2 separate regions of the Homo sapiens genome follow, and region 1 is linked to region 2. Evidence: fine-mapped expression QTL. Tissue or cell type: subcutaneous fat. Region 2 holds a variant in brackets; the other region holds the start of a gene. All regions are shown on one strand. Distances are between the middles of the regions.

Region 1 (8,000 bases), 23 kb after region 2:
GTCAAAAGTGATACCTTTGTTGTTTTCTGCCCCTTGTTTCAGTTTCAAAACTCTGCTTCAGCAAGATGTGAAAAAAAGAAGAAGCTATGGAAACTCATCTGATTCCAGATATGATGATGGAAGAGGGTACAGCTTTTTAAATTGATAATAGTTGTTTTTATGTCTTTGTATACCTTTATTAGATATTTTAGGTAGATAGAGTTAGACTTTTGGAAATTAAAAGTTTAAATCCTATTTTACAAAATTAATGCATTACTGTAAATTAAAAGTCAAATTGCTTCTGATTTGATAATAATCAGTTAATCTGACAAAGCTAAAATATACATGAAATATCCCATGGAAAAAGTCTAAATTAGAGGGTGAAAACTGATGGCCACCATTAAAATCTAAAGATTTCATTTTAACATCTGGATTTCTAGTTGCTAATTAAAAACTTAGAAGATCGCCAGGCACGGTGGCTTGAGCCTGTAATCCCAGCACTTTGGGAGGCTGAGGCGGGTGGATCACGAGGTCAAGAGATCGAGACCATCCTGACCAACATGATGAAACCCCGTCTCTACTAAAATACAAAAATTAGCTGGGTGTGGTGGTATGCGCCTGTAGTCCCAGCTACTCAGGAGGCTGAGGCAGGAGAATTGTTTGAACCCAGGAGGTAGAGGTTGCAGTGAGCTGAGATCGTGCCACTGCACTCCAGCCTGGAGACAGAGTGGGACTCCATCTCAAAAAAAAAGCCGTAAAGATCAAGATCAAGTAGCACTGGGCTAGGCTTATGTTTCTACCTGGCAAAAATCAGCTGGAGCTGGGTTTCAGTGGGGCATTACTGGAGGTGCTATTCAGTTCATCACAGTCCTTTCTTGACTCAGTTCCTTGTGTGCATTATGTGTCTGGTCCCTTTAAGTGTTTTAATTTTTGCCTCCTGACCTAAAATGGTAGTTTCTATTTTAAATTGTGTTTTAGGGTCATGTGGGTGCTGAAAAAGAAAAGGGTCTAGTTGAGTGCTTTTAAAAGGAGACAATTCAAGTTGTGTCTATCAAACAGTAGATACTAACTTTTTATTTTATTAGGCCACCAGGAAACCCTCCCCGAAGAATGGGTAGAATCAATCATCTGCGTGGCCCTAGTCCCCCTCCAATGGCTGGTGGATGAGGAAGGTAACTTCAGATCTGAAATTCTTTTGTAGGATTTTGTTTTGAAAACACTTCTGTAGTAATGTTTTCTTTAAGAAGTTGCCCAGCAGCTTATAATTACTCAGACATTATTTGGAAATATATTTGTTATCTTAACCCTTGAAAAATTCACTGGCCTTGTTATCAAAATGTCTTTTGAGAAAGATTTTATAACATGTAATATGTTGAGGTTTTCACACAGATCCAAATTAATAACCAGTAACTAATTATTGTAACATTTTCTTTCAGGTAAATGTCTGCTCTAAGAAGCAGACAACCGGACATGCGCATTCATAGCAGAAGGAAACCATCAAGAAGTGGAAGGCTGACCATGATGAGCAGTAGATGAATGTGTATGTCTAAACAAGGACTGCTCTGTGTCCTCACAGATGAATGAGGTCATGCTGGGAATTCCCTCTGCAGGGAACTGGCCTGACTGACATGCAGTTCCATAAATGCAGATGTTTGTCTCATTACCTTTTTGTATAGTTTATTAAAGTATTAATATAGTTTTAATAAGTAAATATTTTTAGGTTGCAGAATGGACTCCTCATCTTTATATTCACGAAAAAGCAATCTGAAGAAAACAAATAAAAGCCTGTGTATTTAGCACTGTTAGTGTCACCTTTTCAACTTCTGAAACACTGTTCATTGTTAACTTTTTCTCATTTATAAATCACTGTATTTATTTTAGTAGTATGCATAGCATATCTGTGCTCTTGAATTAATTTTTATCTTTAACATATTTGTCTCATCAATCTTTAATACACTGTGTCTAATTTGCTACCAAATGTAATTATCAGGGTATTTATAAAACCATAGCTAACAAAACTGAGCTACAAAATGAAAATTTACTAAATAGTTTTTAAAATCATGGACTTCAGCCTGGCGCGGTGGCTCATGCCTGTAATCCCAGCACTGTGGGAGGCTGAGGCGGGCAGATCGCCTAAGTTCACGAGTTTGAGACCAGCCTGCAGCATGACGAAACCTAAAATAACAAAAATTAGCCAGGCGTGGTAGAGTGCACCTGTAATCCCTGCTACTCAGGAGGCGGAGGCAGGAGAATCGCTTCAACCCGGGAGGCGGAGGTTGCTGTGAGCATGCCACTGCACTCCTGCCTAGGCAACAGAGTGAGACCCTGTCTCAAAAAAATAAATAAAACCATGGGCTTCCATGCTATCTTGACAAATTTGCACTCTATAGCATCACTCAAAATACTGCCTATTGGCTTTAAACTCCATCTGAATACTGATAACTTTCACATTCTTTCACTAGAGTGGAAGCTCTGAGACTAGGAATTTTGTTGTCTTTACCCCAGTCCTTTGAATAGTGACTACATGTAAGATAGTCATGTAGTATTTATTGGAAATAAATATTTATTGGAAAAACGAAAACAGATAATTCCTCTTCTGGTGTTTAACAGGCTTTGAAACCAAGTGTTCAGGTGAAAGCCTTTTTATATTGATTTATCAGCATTTATTCAACCCCGTTTGTCGGGAAATGGGATGTTGTGGCATAAGATACCAATATTCAGGATAAAGAAGCAATTACAATGCAGGTTTCAGGATAAGGATAACAGTTTGCTGGCCACCTCAATTATGTGTCAGATTTTATTTATTTTTTAATTTTTATTTTATTTTTATTTTTTATTTTTATTTTTGAGACAGGGTCTCACTCTTATCCAGGCTGGAGTACAGTGGCTGCTCACTGCAGCCTTGACCTTTTGGGCTAAAGTGATCTCCCACTATGGCCTCCCTAAACGCTGGGATTACACGTGTGAGCCACAATGCCCAGCCTGTAAATTTTTACACATTTTAAATTCTGACAAAGTGAGGGATATGTATAATGTATACATATATACAAAGTGAGGTAAATGTATAATGACATTTGCATTATACAGATACATGCAAGGGTTCAGTAAAGTTTGGCAGCTTCCTAGATTGTATTGCCAGTGAATGGCAGAGGCATTATTAAACCTCCACCTTACCCTATAGCGGGGAGACCATGGCAGAGTCTCAGTAGGTGGTTGATTGTTGTTACTGATGGCTCTTCCTGAGCATGTGAACCATGGTCCTCTTCTGCCTCCTAGCACTGCTGCTGCAGGACTTGTTCCTCGGGTCTTATCCCAGAGTTCTGGCTGCATTTGACATTCAGGTATTCTTCTTTGCACTTCAGATAGAATGTAAAACACAGGTTCTTGAGTACTTTATGCTTAACTCTTGTCTTTGCTACTCAATAGCTTATGATCTTGAGTGAATTATGCCATTTTATCCCACTTCACTCACCTGTAAAACGGGGATTAAATTTTTACCTCCAAGAGTTCTTTATTTAGTATTTAGTCATCACATGCTTATTGGGCACCTACCATGTGCTGAAGATAACTGGCAAAGTCTCACGGAGCTTACATTCTAGTGTGGGAGACAGTGAGCAGGCATGATAATTACAGACTAATGCTTCATGCTTCAAAGGGAATAGGATGATGAGAGAATAACTGCGGAAGGCCTGAGGTGACATTTGAGTTCAGACGTGAGAATGAGACAGCTGAGGGAAGAGCATCCAAGGCAAAATGAACAGCAAGTGCAACAGCCCGATGACGGGAAGGGCTTGGCATGTCTGAGAAAGATAAAACAGGTGTAGCTGGAAATGCCAAGGAATGGGGAGAGTGTTGTGAGGTGAACTTAGAAATGTAGCAATAACTAGATATGGTCTTTAGGTGGTGGTTAGTTTAGATTCTGTTCTTTGAGCAAAGGGAAACCATTAGAGTTTAAAGCATGAGTGACATCTAATTTTTGAGGTAAGTCTTAGTGGAGTGCTGGGTACATAGTAGTATTAACTACGTAATATTTTAAAACAACGTGGGCAACTATATAAGAACAGATCATAGGGGGACAGGACAAGGAGTTCGAGTTAAGAGGCTGTTGTAGTCATCCAGGTGAGATGATAGTGGCTTGGGCTAGGTAGTGGCATGGGAATGGAGAAGTGGATGAATTCAAGATCTATTTTAGAGACTGCAGGATTTACTGATGGATTGGATGTAGAAGCTGTCAACAAGTGAAGAATCAAAATGACATTTACTGAGATGGTGAAAGTGAGAGGGGAGGGAATCAAGAGTTAAATTTTGGACATATTTAAGTTTGCAGTGCCTTGTAGACAATCCAGATGGAGAGACCAAGTAGGCACTGGTTATCAGTACGGATCTCTCTGAGCGGTTCATCCTGGATATATATATTTGGGAATCGTATTCATTGCTAAAGCCAGGAAACTGGATAGTCACCCAAGGAGTGTGCCTGGAAAAGACCTAACCCCAACATCAGAGGCTGGACTGAACATGAAGACATATGAGAAAAACTAAGAGTACATATGGTATCTGGGAAGCCAGGAGAAGAGATGCCTGTGAGGACGAAATAAGATGCGGGTTATCAGCCGACCCCCACTAGGCGCTCGAAAAGCTATGTGTACTATGTTGCTGGCATCTACACAGTCAGGACTAATCACAGCAACACCCACCCAATCAATCCGCATGCACACCCCGCCCCCAGCCCCTGCGCCGGGCAGCCCCACCCCCGCCTTTTCGGAGCCCTCTGGGGCGACTCCGCGGCGGCCATCTTGACTGTGGGCAGCCGGCCGTGCGCCTGCGCGGTGGCCCTTCCATCCCGGCAGTCGTGGCTGCAGCGCTGAGGCGAGAGGTTGGTGGGTGTCTCCGGCCATAATGACCCAGGCTGAGAAGGGTGATACGGAGAACGGAAAGGAGAAGGGCGGCGAGAAGGAGAAGGAGCAGCGCGGCGTGAAGCGGCCCATCGTGCCCGCGCTGGTGCCGGAGTCGCTGCAAGAGGTGCGGCTCTGGCTGGGTTGGAACTCTTTGCCCTTGCTTGGGTCCTCCGCTGCCAGGCAAGGGGCGGGAGGCGGCGGGAGGCTTCGAGTCCCCCTTGCAGGCCCCAGCCCCTGGTGGGGGGAGTGCGGAAGCGGTCGTTCTTTTCCGGGTGGTGGCGCGCCGGGACGCCGAGGGCTGGGAGGTGCGGAGCGCCAGGAGCCAGGCGGAGCCCCCGCAGGGACACCGCTCCGATCTCCCGCACGCCCCACCGTCTGGTTGTGTGCGCTCCTGCCCGGGCTCTGGCCTCAGCTTCCCCGACCATAAAACGACCACGGTGATAACCAGCCGCCTCGCAAGTTGCCGTGAGGGTTAAATGGTGGCAGATAGAGTTTAGGACCAGGCTGGCTCACTGGGAGCGTCAGCCTGTGCTTGTTAAGGGATAGTTTGGGGTCCAGGCTTTTTCCTTTGTTAAGGAAATCTCAGATAATGGAAGTCATTTCAAGCTTAAAAGCAAGGAAATGGTGGACATTTGTCTAAATATATATTAAGAGCTTGTGTATCAAAAACAACACTATTAGACCAAACTAAACTAACCAGAAAAAATTATTTGCAGTAGCGTGCCTGGCAGAGGACCTTAGATGTATACACATACACAAAACCTTACTGATCAGTAACTAAAACAGCATTCACGTAGGAAAACGGGCACAGGCAGTGTACAATTCACAGAAGAAATGAGGCATAAACTGCTCAGAAATTCATGTAGGACATCTCTGATCCAGCTTCCTTACCGGTAGATGGGTTAAGGATAATACCTAACTAGTAGGGCAGCTACTAGTTAGTTATCACTAGTATGACAGTGCCTGGCACACCGTAAGCCCAGAGTGGCCATTACTGTTGCACAGGCCTGGTTTCTCCATCTGTCTAGTTGAGAAGGCTGACTGGATGGTCTGTAAGGGCCTTGCCAGATCCTTCCCTCTAGGATTCTCCCACTCTGTGGGGGGTGATTAGGAGGAGAGAGGTCACACTTGGAGATAGGACAACAGGTATCAGAGCATGGCATGGAATGGGCTTGTGCAGAGGGCAGTATTGGGCACTCAAGCAAGTACCTCCTCCATCCCCGACAGTCAGGGAGGGTTTCTTCAAAGGAGGTGAGGTGACATCTGTTTAGAGTCCTGAAGGTGATTAGGAGCTAACCAGAGGGAGGAGGGAATCTCAGGGAAGAAGAACAGTGTGGAAGACACTTGTGCCAACAGAGGATGTGAAGTGTTGGAGGCCCAGCCAGTAGATTAGGATGTCTGGAGTTAAGGAAGGGGACTGAAGATCTTAGCAGGGGCCATATCATGAGGGTCGTGTAAGCCACAGAGTCTGACCTCTTGTGAAGGCAGTGGATCACGTTGAAAGGCTTTACTATAGTAAGAGCCAACATTCCTCGAATGCTTCCTGTGGCCCAGCTCTGAGTTACATGTATAACTCATTTAATTCTCACAGTAACTGTGAGTTAGGAGCTTCATTCAGAGCAAGGAAGTGGCAGTCTGAATTTGCAGACAGATCCGTGAATTCAGAGCCTGGGCCCGGATTCTATAGCAACATTTCTTCAGTCACATAAATGCTCAATAACTGTATGTTAATTTGTAGTGGACAATTTTTGTTTCATTTATTTAAACAAATATTTGTTGAGCTATGTACTATAACTCAGGTCAAGGGAACATAATAAACAATGAGTTTGTGTTTAGGTAGAGAGCGGTAATTGGATACTTCTCAAAGAACTTTATTGAATTATTTTGATACCTTTGAGTCAGCTTCTTAGTTTAGCTTGTTATGTGTATGTTGTTTAACTTTGTTACCTGCATATTATTTACAAAGTCACACATCTATGTTTTATATCTGCAGCAAATCCAGAGCAACTTCATCATTGTCATACATCCAGGTTCAACAACTTTAAGGATTGGTCGAGCCACAGACACTCTTCCTGCCAGCATTCCTCACGTCATTGCCCGAAGACACAAACAACAAGGGCAGCCCCTATACAAGGACAGTTGGCTCCTAAGGGAGGGACTAAATGTAAGTCAAAAACGACCTGGAGAGAAAGCCTAAGGTTGTTTCCCTGGGAGGGCTTAGACACAAGTACACCAGAATCTTAAAGAAACATCTTCATAGCTTTGCTGTGTTTTAAAACATTAATAATGTCACTAATTTTTCATCAGAGCTAGTGACTTTAGATGTAAAGAATTAGTTACAACAAAAGTAAGTCTTTCAGGGTGAATTGAGTGTGGATGAAGGTGATCTATAATGGAAGACACAAAATCATCACTCACAGTAATACATTCAGGTCCTTGTTAACAGGCTTAAACTTATGGATTAAGCCATATTTAAACTGTAAATATCTCTTTCAGATACTTACAGTTTAAGTCAATAAGTCAAACTCTTATTTTCAATCCATTAGCAAATTAGATTGTTACAATAAGCACTTATTATGGTCTTAGATTAACCATAATTTCAAGGCAAAAAAAAAATTTTCTTGCAGTAAGCATCTACTTTATCCTATGTTGCAGATGGTAATTATCAGGAAAATTCTTTGTGATCAATGATAAATCTATATATTACATCATAATCCACATTTTACTTTGAAGTTTTAAGTCAAGGATAGTTTTGGGAATGTAAAGTTTCTTTAATTCTGATAGTAGGCCTTAGGGTTCCATTTTTTAGTGTAACAAGCAGACTCTACGTAAGTCTAGTTGTAAGTTTAAATATAACTTGCTGATATAAGAGTCCGCACTTCATTATTTATCTTTGGATCTTATAATTCTACTTTAGGGAGTACGTTTAAGAAATAAAAATCAAAAGAAAACATTTCTGTAAAGATATTTATGGGCATTTTCTTTATACTATAATAACGAGAACCAGTAAGTTTATGGCTTAACCAAAAAGTTTAAGCCTTGCTGATCAACATATGAAGGAATGTGTCATTGTCAAAACTGTAAACATAAGAATTATATAATTGTATGGAAGAGTCTCTGAAATAT
Region 2 (8,535 bases):
CTGCCTCCCAGGTTCAGGCAATTCTCCTGCCTCAGCCTCCCGAGTAGCTGGGACTACAGGCATGTGCCACCACGCCCAGCTAATTTTGTATTTTTAGTAGAGATGGGGTTTCTCCGTGTTGGTCAGGCTGGTCTCGAACTCCCGACCTCAGGTGATCCACCTGCCTCAGCCTCTCAAAGTGCTGTGATTACAGGCATGAGCCACCATGCCCGGCCATGAAATTGTTTTAATTTCAATTTTGGGTGGTTAAATGCTAGGGTATAAAAAGTACAGTGAATTTTGTATATTTATCTTGCATTCTGCAACCTTTCTAAACTCATTTACTATCTCTAATAGTGTGTGTTTGTGGTGCTGGGAGAAGGATCTTAGGATTTTCTACATATAAGATGTCATCTGCAAATAGAGGTAGTTTTACTTCTTCCTTTCAGTTCTGGATGCCTTTTATTTATTTATCTTGCCTAATTACCCTGAATAGATCTTCCAGTACAATGTTCAATAGAAGTGGTGGGAATGAACATCTTTGCCTGCTTCTAATCTTAAGGGGAAAGCATTCAGTTTTCTACCCATTAAGTATGATGTTAGCTGTGGGTGTTTTGTAGATGCCCTTTATCAAGTTGAGGAAGTTCACATCTACCCTTCACTTGTTGACTGCTCTATTTTAATTATGAAAGGTGTTAGATTTTGTCAAAAGCATTTTCTGCAATTATTCAGATGATCATGTGGTTTTATCCTTTATACTACATTTATTAACTTTAGATGTTAAATCAAACTTGTATTCCTGGGATAAAATCTGAACTGGTTATGGTGTGTGATCCTTTTTATATGTTCTAGATTCCATTTGCTAGTAATTTTGTTAAAATAAGATTTTTGAATCTGGATTATACTGGTCTCATAGAATGAGCTATGTTTTTTCTCCTATTCTCTTTTCTGAAAGAGTTTGTAAAGAATTGGTATCAATTCTTTAAATGTTTGGCAGAATAGATCAGTGAAGCCATCTAATTCTGAGCTTTTAATTGTAAGAAGATTTTCAACTGCTAATTCAATCTCTTTCCTTTTTATAGATTTATTCCAATTTTCTTCGTCTTGAGTCAGTTTTGGTAGTTTGTATCTTTGTAAGGATTGGTTTATTTCATCTAGGTTATCTAATTTGTTGGCGTAAAGTTGTTCATAGTTTTTTCTTGTAATCCATATTTTCTCGGTAAATTTAACTAAAAGTTTAAGAATTGCATTAATCTTTTCAAAAAACCTAGTTTTAGCTTTATTTTTATTTTTTTGTCCTCTGTTTCGTTTATTTCCATGCTTATCTTTGCTACTTCCTTTTTTCTCCTTGCTTTGGATTTAGTTTGCTCTGCTGCTTTTAGTGTCTCAAGGTGGAAGATTAGGTTATTGATTTGACATTTTTCTTCTTTTTAAGAAGTGGGGTCTCACTGTGTTGCCCAGGCTAGAGTGCAGTGGCTATTCACAGGCATGAAAATAGTGCACTATGGCCTCTCACTCCTGGGCTCAAATGATTCTCTTGCTTCAGCCTCTCAAGTAGCTGGGACTACAGGAATGTACCACTCCCCCTGGCTTCTTCCCTTCTTTTTAAGGCATTTGAAGCTGTAAATCTCCCTCTAAGCATTGCTTTCACTGCATGCCATATGTTTTAATTTGTCATGTTTTGTTTTCATTGATCTTGAATTATTTTCTCATTTTCTCTGTGATTTCTTCTTTGACTCATTGGTACTTGGAAATATGTTGTTTAATTTTGACAAATTTGTGAATTCCCTACATTTCTGTTATTGATTTCTAATTTCATTCCATTGTAGTTACAAAAAATACTTCGAATGATTCCAATCTTTTAAAAGGTATTAATACTTGCTTTATGGCCTAACATATGTCTATACTGGAGAATGTTCCATGTGTGCTTGAAAAGATATGTGCTCTGCTGTTTTGGCATGGTGTATTCTAGAGAGGTTCGTTAGGTCTAGTTGGTTTAGTGCTGTTCAAGTCTTTCATTCTCTTGTTTATCTCTGTGTATGTCTTCTTGCCAGTATTGAAAGTGGGATGTTGAATTATCCAACTATTATTGTTGTTGAAATGTCTATTTCTTTCCTCACTTTTATCAGTATTTGCTTAATACACTTTTAAAGTCTATTTTGGGGTACATATATGTTTATAATTTTTATACCTTTTTGGTGTATTGATTTATAATACTTATCAAATATCCTTGTTTTCTACTGATAATTTTTGTCTTAAGGTTTATTGTATCTGATATTGGTATAGTGGTTCCAGTTTTCTTTTGGTTACTGTTTGCATGGTATATCTTTTTCCATCCTTTTACTGCCAACTTATTTGTGTACTTAAATCTAAATGTGTCTTTTGTAAGAAACACAGAAATCATTTTTAAAAATGTCTTCTGCCAATCTCTGCCTCTTAATTGAAGTGTTTATTTACATTTAATGTAATTACTGATAAGGCAGAGCTTATTTCTACCATTCTGCTATTTGTTTTCTATATGTCTTATGCCTTTTTGATTTCTACTCCTCCATTACTGACTTCTTTTAATTCCCCTGTTGCTTATTTTATCATATTTTAAAACTTATTTTCTTAGTAGTAGCCCTGGGGATTACAATTAACACCTTAACTTTTAAAACTCTAGTTTAAATTAATGCTAACTTAATTCAAAAATATACAAAAACTTTGCTCCTGTATGGTTCCGTTTCTTCTCCCCCCTTGTGCTGTTACTGTCATATAAATTACACCTTTTTTTACATTGTTTGCCTATCATTACAGATTTTATAATTATTGTTTAATGCACTTATCTTTTAAATTAGTTAAGAGGAAAAAGTTACAAAAATATACTTACACTGTGTTTTTTATTTACCTATGTAGTTACCTTTACTGATTGTAGAGGGGCAAATGGTGGCCGCCTACAAATATGTCCATGTCTCAAACCCCAAAACCTATGAAAATGTTACCTTATTTGAAAAAGAAAAAACAAAAGATCTTTGAAGATGTAAGACAGTTAAGGATTTTGAGATGAGATCATCCAGGTGGGCCCTAAATCTAACAAGTGTCCTTATAATACACACACACAGGAGAAGACAGACGCAGAGGAAAGGGTGATGTGAAGACAAGGCAGAGATTGGATTGATGTAACTATAAGCCCAGGAATTCTGGGCAAGCCATAAGAAACTGGAAGAGGCAAGGAATGGGTTCTTCCCTTGAGCCCTGGAAAAAATGTGTCCCTGCCAGATTTTGAATTTCTAGCCTCTAGAACTGTGAGAGAATAAATCTCTGTTGTTTTAAGCCACCCAGTTTGTAGTAATTTGTTACAGCAGCCCTCAGAAACTAACACACCAGTGCTTTTTATTTTTCATGTGGATTTGAGTTATTGCTTACTGTCCTCTCATTTCAGTCTGCATTAATCCCTTTAGTATTTTTTTGTAGGGCAGATTTTAAAGCAATGAATTCTCTCAGGATATGTTTATACAGGAATGTCTTATTTTCTCATTCATTTTTGAAGGATAGTTTTTCTAGATATGGAATTCTTGATTCACAATCTTTTTCTCTCAGCACTTTGAATATATCATCCCACTGCCTTCTGGCCTCCGTGATTTCTGGTGAGAAATCACGTGTTAATCTTATTTAGAATTCCTTGTGTGTGATGAGTCACTTCTCTTTTGCTGCTTTAAAGATTCAACACAGTTTGATTATCATGTATCTAGGTATGGATTTCTTTGGTTTTATTTTATTTGGAGTTATTTTAGGTCTTGGGTGCATAGACAAATATTTTTCATCAAACTTGAACTGTTTTTGGCCATTATTTCTTCAAATATTCTTTATCCCTCTTTCCCACCTCTCTTTTGAGACTCCCATTATGCATATGTTTGTATGACTGATGGTGTCCTACAGGTCTCTAAAAACTGTTCACTTTTCTTCATTCTTTTTTCTTTATGTTCCTTAGATTGGATAATCTCAATCTATCAAGTTCACTGATTGTTTCATCTGCCTGCTCAAGTTTGCTGTTGAGCCACTCTAGTGGATTTTTATTTCAGTTTCTATATTTTCAACTCTAGAATTTCTATTTGGTTCTCTCTTCTTAAACAAAATTTGATCTCTTTATTGATATTTCTATTTGTCAAAACATCAGTCAATCAGTCATACTTTCTTTCTTTTTTTTTTCTTTTTTTTCTTTTTCTTAAACAGCATCTCATTCTGTCGTCAGGCTGGAGTACGGTGGTGTGATCTCAGCTCACTGCAATCTCCACCTCCCAAATTAAAGTGATTCTCCTGCCTCAGCCTCCCAAGTAGCTGGGATTACAGGTGTGCACCACCACACCCAGCTAATTTTTGTATTTTTAGTAGAGACAGGGTTTCACCATATTGGCCCAGATGGTCTCAATCTCCTGACCTCGTGATCCACCTGCCTCAGCCTCCCAAAGTGCTGGGATTACAGACATGAGCCACCATGTCTGGCCTTTTTCATTCTTTAGACATTGCTTGCTTTGCTTCTTTGCTTTGCTTTGCTTCTTTGCCCATAAATCTTTTTTTTCTTTTTTTTTTTTTTTTTT[G/TG]AGGCAGAGTCTCAATCTGTTATCCAGGCTGGAGTGCAGTGGTACAATCACAGCTCACTGCAGCCTTGACCTCCCAGGCTCAAGTGATCCTCCCACCTTAGCCTCTTGAATAACTGGGACCACAGGCACATACCACCACATCCAGCTAATTAAAACAAATTTTTTTTTGTAGAGATGGGATCTCACTATATTGCTTAGGCTGGTCTCAAACTGGAACTCCAGGGCCCAAGTTATCCTCCTGCCTTGGCCTTCCACATTTCTGGGATTACAGGCATGAGCCACCATGCCCAGTCTTAAAATCTTTATCTACTAAGTCCAACATCCAGGCTTCCTTGGGAACAGTTTCTATTGGAGTTATTTTTATTTTCCTCTCTATGGTCCATGTATTCTTCTTTGCATATCTCATAACTTTTTATTGAAAAATTGACATTTTAAATAATATAATGTGGCAATTCTGAAAATGAGATTCTTCTTCCTTCTCCAAGTTGTTTAGTGACTTTTTAAAACCAATGCTGTAAAGGCTGTATTCTTTGTCATATATAGCTACTGATGTCTCTGCTCAGTTAGCTTAGTAGTCAGCTAATGACTAGACAGAGATTTAAAGCTCTGGAACCAATAAGTCTGCCACTTTTTGCAGAAGGGATCTGGGTGTGTGTTGGGGCATGCCTTCAACATTCAATTGGGTAATTGGCAATTCTGCCTTATCCTTCACTTCCTGCTTGTTCCATCTCAAAACTGGCCAGATGTGAGAGCTTGGGACCTACTCAGTTTGCTTATTATTTTTTTAATCTCACCATCTAGAAGTAATATCAAGTTTTTCTTCAGCATGTACACAGCCCTATTCATGCAGGTGGCCTTGTAGATTCCTAAGAATATGTCAGGGCTTTTCAAAGGCCCTGTGGATATCTCATTGCCCAGTTTTCCTTTTAAGCTTTCTGTTTAGCCTATTGTCTACCCCAACTGTTACTGACTGCCTGAGGCAGTCACAAAGTCAATCAATTGCTTTTAATTGTTTTCAACAAATGCCCCTGTGATAAGTATTTTTCTACACTTGAGTTCCTGATTCAGATTTTAAAAAAGCCATGCAAATAGAAACTTCCAGGGACTCTTCAGACAGGTAAAATAATGACAATTCTCTGTGAAGGGGGCTTTAATAGTTCACCAACCCCCTTCTGCTCTTTTATTGACTGCCAGGCTGCTGGTTTGTATGACTAAGGGCTGATGGTTTTCAAAGCTTCTGCAGAAATGAAGAAGGGGGAATGGGAATAGGGCAAATGAAAATGGCACCATGATTGCTATTTTTACCCGATTCAGCCATCTTTTTAGAATTAATGCTCTCCTTGTGGTAGGCCAGGTCTCACTAATGCAGGCCTCCATAACAACTGTTTCAGTACTGAGTGGTTAAGTTAAATATTAAAAGCTAGTGCCCTTATACAAAGGCTGGGATGTAACAAAAGCCCATCAAGAGTTTTGCCTAGACCTTTCCTGGGCCTTAAAGCATAACAAAATAACAAAGGAATTCTTAACAGGACCCATTTAAGAACAAGTTTTATTGGGGGTCTGAAGAAACTGCCCAGGCCTCCACAAACAAGTTTATTGGGGGTCTGAAGGAATCCCCAAACTTCCATGATTTAGCAGGAGACAAGATAAGGGTAATCACTCCAGTACCTGGACCCATTTAGATTAAGTAAATTTACTGAGGCTCCAGAGGAAGGTATTCAGGACTTAGACCTTAGTTATATGTTAAAAAAGTTAATCACTTAAGTCTTTAGATGAATGCACACTTACACATAGACATATAGCTTAGGAGGTATATAAGCTCTGGAAAACTTTGTAATTTTGGGTTGGTCTGGTGATAATTTCCAGGCCTTCTCCCTATAACCAGTTGCAGAAATAAAAACTCTCTTCCTCCCCCAGTTCATCTGCATCTCGTTATTGGGCCACAAGAAATAGCAGCCTGACCTTCAGTTTGGTCCGAGAACACTCCTGATTGCTGCAAGCCTTTGGTTAATTTCACAGTTCTAAAAAAATTGATTGAGACCATTTTTGCAAATTTGCTCATTGTTTTTATACAGAAGATAATTTTTGGAGATTCTTACTCCATCATTTTTGCTGATGTCTTCCTAATGTATCATTTTTATGATTTTTTTACTTGAAAAATATTACTCCTTAAAGAGTACTCAGATAGGCTGGGTGCAGTGGCTCATGCCTGTAACCCCAGCACTTTGGGAGGCCAAGGCGGGCGGATCACGAGGTCAGGAGATCGAGACCATCCTGGCTAACATGGTGAAACCCTGTCTCTACTAAAAAAAAAAAAAAATACAAAAAATTAGCTGGGTGTGGTGGCAGGCACCTGTAGTCCCAGCTACTCAGGAGGCTGAGGCAGGAAAATGGCATGAACCTGAGAGGTGGAGCATGCGGTGAGCTGAGATTGTGCCACTGCACTCCAGCCTGGGCAACAGAGCGAGACTCCGTCTCAAAAAAAAAAAAAAAAAAAAAAAAAAGAAGAGTACTCAGAGTACTCAGATAATAGGGTAATGGAGTCAGTATCTACATGATATTTGGTACTTACCTAGTTCCTGGAAAACATATCACACTAGTCACCAAATCATCAGAACACTGGGTTTCCTCCTATGGACAGAAGTTTGTTAGTTTTCTCTTCTTTATTAGAAATTTTTATTTTTATTAAAATACATGGTTGTCAGAAGCATTCATTTGAACCAGAGTGACTTCATCTTGAGTGAGGGCTAGAAAAAATGAGGCTAAGACTTGTTGGGCTGCATTCCCCGGAAGTTAGGTATTCCTAGCCTCTAGATGTTTACGGTTAAGGAAACAGATTGATAACGTTTACTAAACAGACCCAGACTCAGGAATGGTCCTAACATCCCGTTATCTCTAGCACAGAAGCATTCCTAATTTTGCTTTAATAATATCGATTCTTGAAAAATATAGTAATTAAGAAAATTAATCCTTTATCACAAACCCTTGTAGTAGAGTGCATCTCCCCATGATTTTGTTGTTGTTGTTGTTATCCTATATATAAACAAGCATTTATATATATATCCTATATATAAACAAGCATTTATATATGTATCCTATATATAAACAAGCATTTATATATATATCCTATATATAAACAAGCATTTATATATATATCCTATATATAAACAAGCATTTATATATATATCCTATATATAAACAAGCATTTATATATATATCCTATATATAAACAAGCATTTATATATATATCCTATATATAAACAAGGTGGGTGCTTTTCTCCTCTTTCAGAAATGCCCTACTCTGTCTATGGAGTAGCTATTCTTTCACCACTTTATTTTCTTAACAAACTTGCTTTCATGTTGCACTGTGGACTTGTTCCAAATTCTTTCTTGCACGAGATCCAAGAACACTCTCTTCAGGTCTGGATCAGGTCCCCTTTCCAGTAACATGGTCATTCACACATGACAAGGGATTTATCAAGACATTTCAACCACTGCAATGTATTTTGATACTTATTAGACAAATGAAAATGGAAAAAAATTGTGATAATTAGCAGGGGGTTTTGGAACATTGAATATTTAATGACATTAAGAAATTATTGTTAATTTTTGTTGGTGGGAAAGTAGCATAGCAATTATATATTTTAAGGAGTCCTTGTGTTTTAGAGATGCATGCTGAAATATTTACAGATGAAACTATATGACATCTAGGATTTGCTTAAAAATAATCTGAGTAAATGGGGGAAGTGGGTGGGATGAAACAAGACTAGCTATGAGTTGATAATTGTCTAAACTGGTTGGTATGTACAAAGGGGTTCATTATAATATTCTAGCTTTTGTCAACCTAAAAGAATCAAAATGGTCAGAATCTAATTTACGGAGAGTGCAAAGCGTGAGGATGGCCCACCTGAAAACACCAACTCCAAAGGAATGGAGTCAGTGTTCTGAAGTAGGGAAGTTAAGGTGTCAGTTATACAGG

Direction of the effects. Alleles are on the strand shown, and positions count from the first base shown. SD is a standard deviation of normalised expression in the study named.
For the expression in subcutaneous fat of the gene that starts at base 4,825 in region 1, TG is the low allele of the variant in region 2 and G is the other (moderate effect, 0.60 SD a copy in TwinsUK).

Evidence for each region. PIP is the estimated chance that this variant, and not a neighbour inherited with it, causes the effect.
Region 1: it holds the start of ACTR8, and the variant in region 2 is fine-mapped to the expression of ACTR8 in subcutaneous fat (TwinsUK, PIP 0.95). The same link has a PIP of 0.9 or more in neural progenitor cells and skeletal muscle.

What each region holds. Positions count from the first base shown.
Region 1 is chr3:53,878,977-53,886,976 of GRCh38, reverse strand. ACTR8 (actin related protein 8) reads left to right here and starts at 4,825. Exons shown (of 13, transcript NM_022899.5): 1 at 4,825-4,998; 2 at 6,868-7,038. The coding sequence starts at 4,876. SELENOK (selenoprotein K) reads left to right here. Exons shown (of 5, transcript NM_021237.5): 3 at 43-126; 4 at 1,065-1,151; 5 at 1,416-2,560. The coding sequence ends at 1,419. RefSeq lists silencers at 4,609-4,698, 5,089-5,198 and an enhancer at 4,859-4,938.
Region 2 is chr3:53,901,694-53,910,228 of GRCh38, reverse strand. No RefSeq gene overlaps it. Among named protein-coding and RNA genes, the nearest start is that of SELENOK, 14 kb to the right of the region's middle. The variant G/TG (reference allele first, on the strand shown) is at 4,557.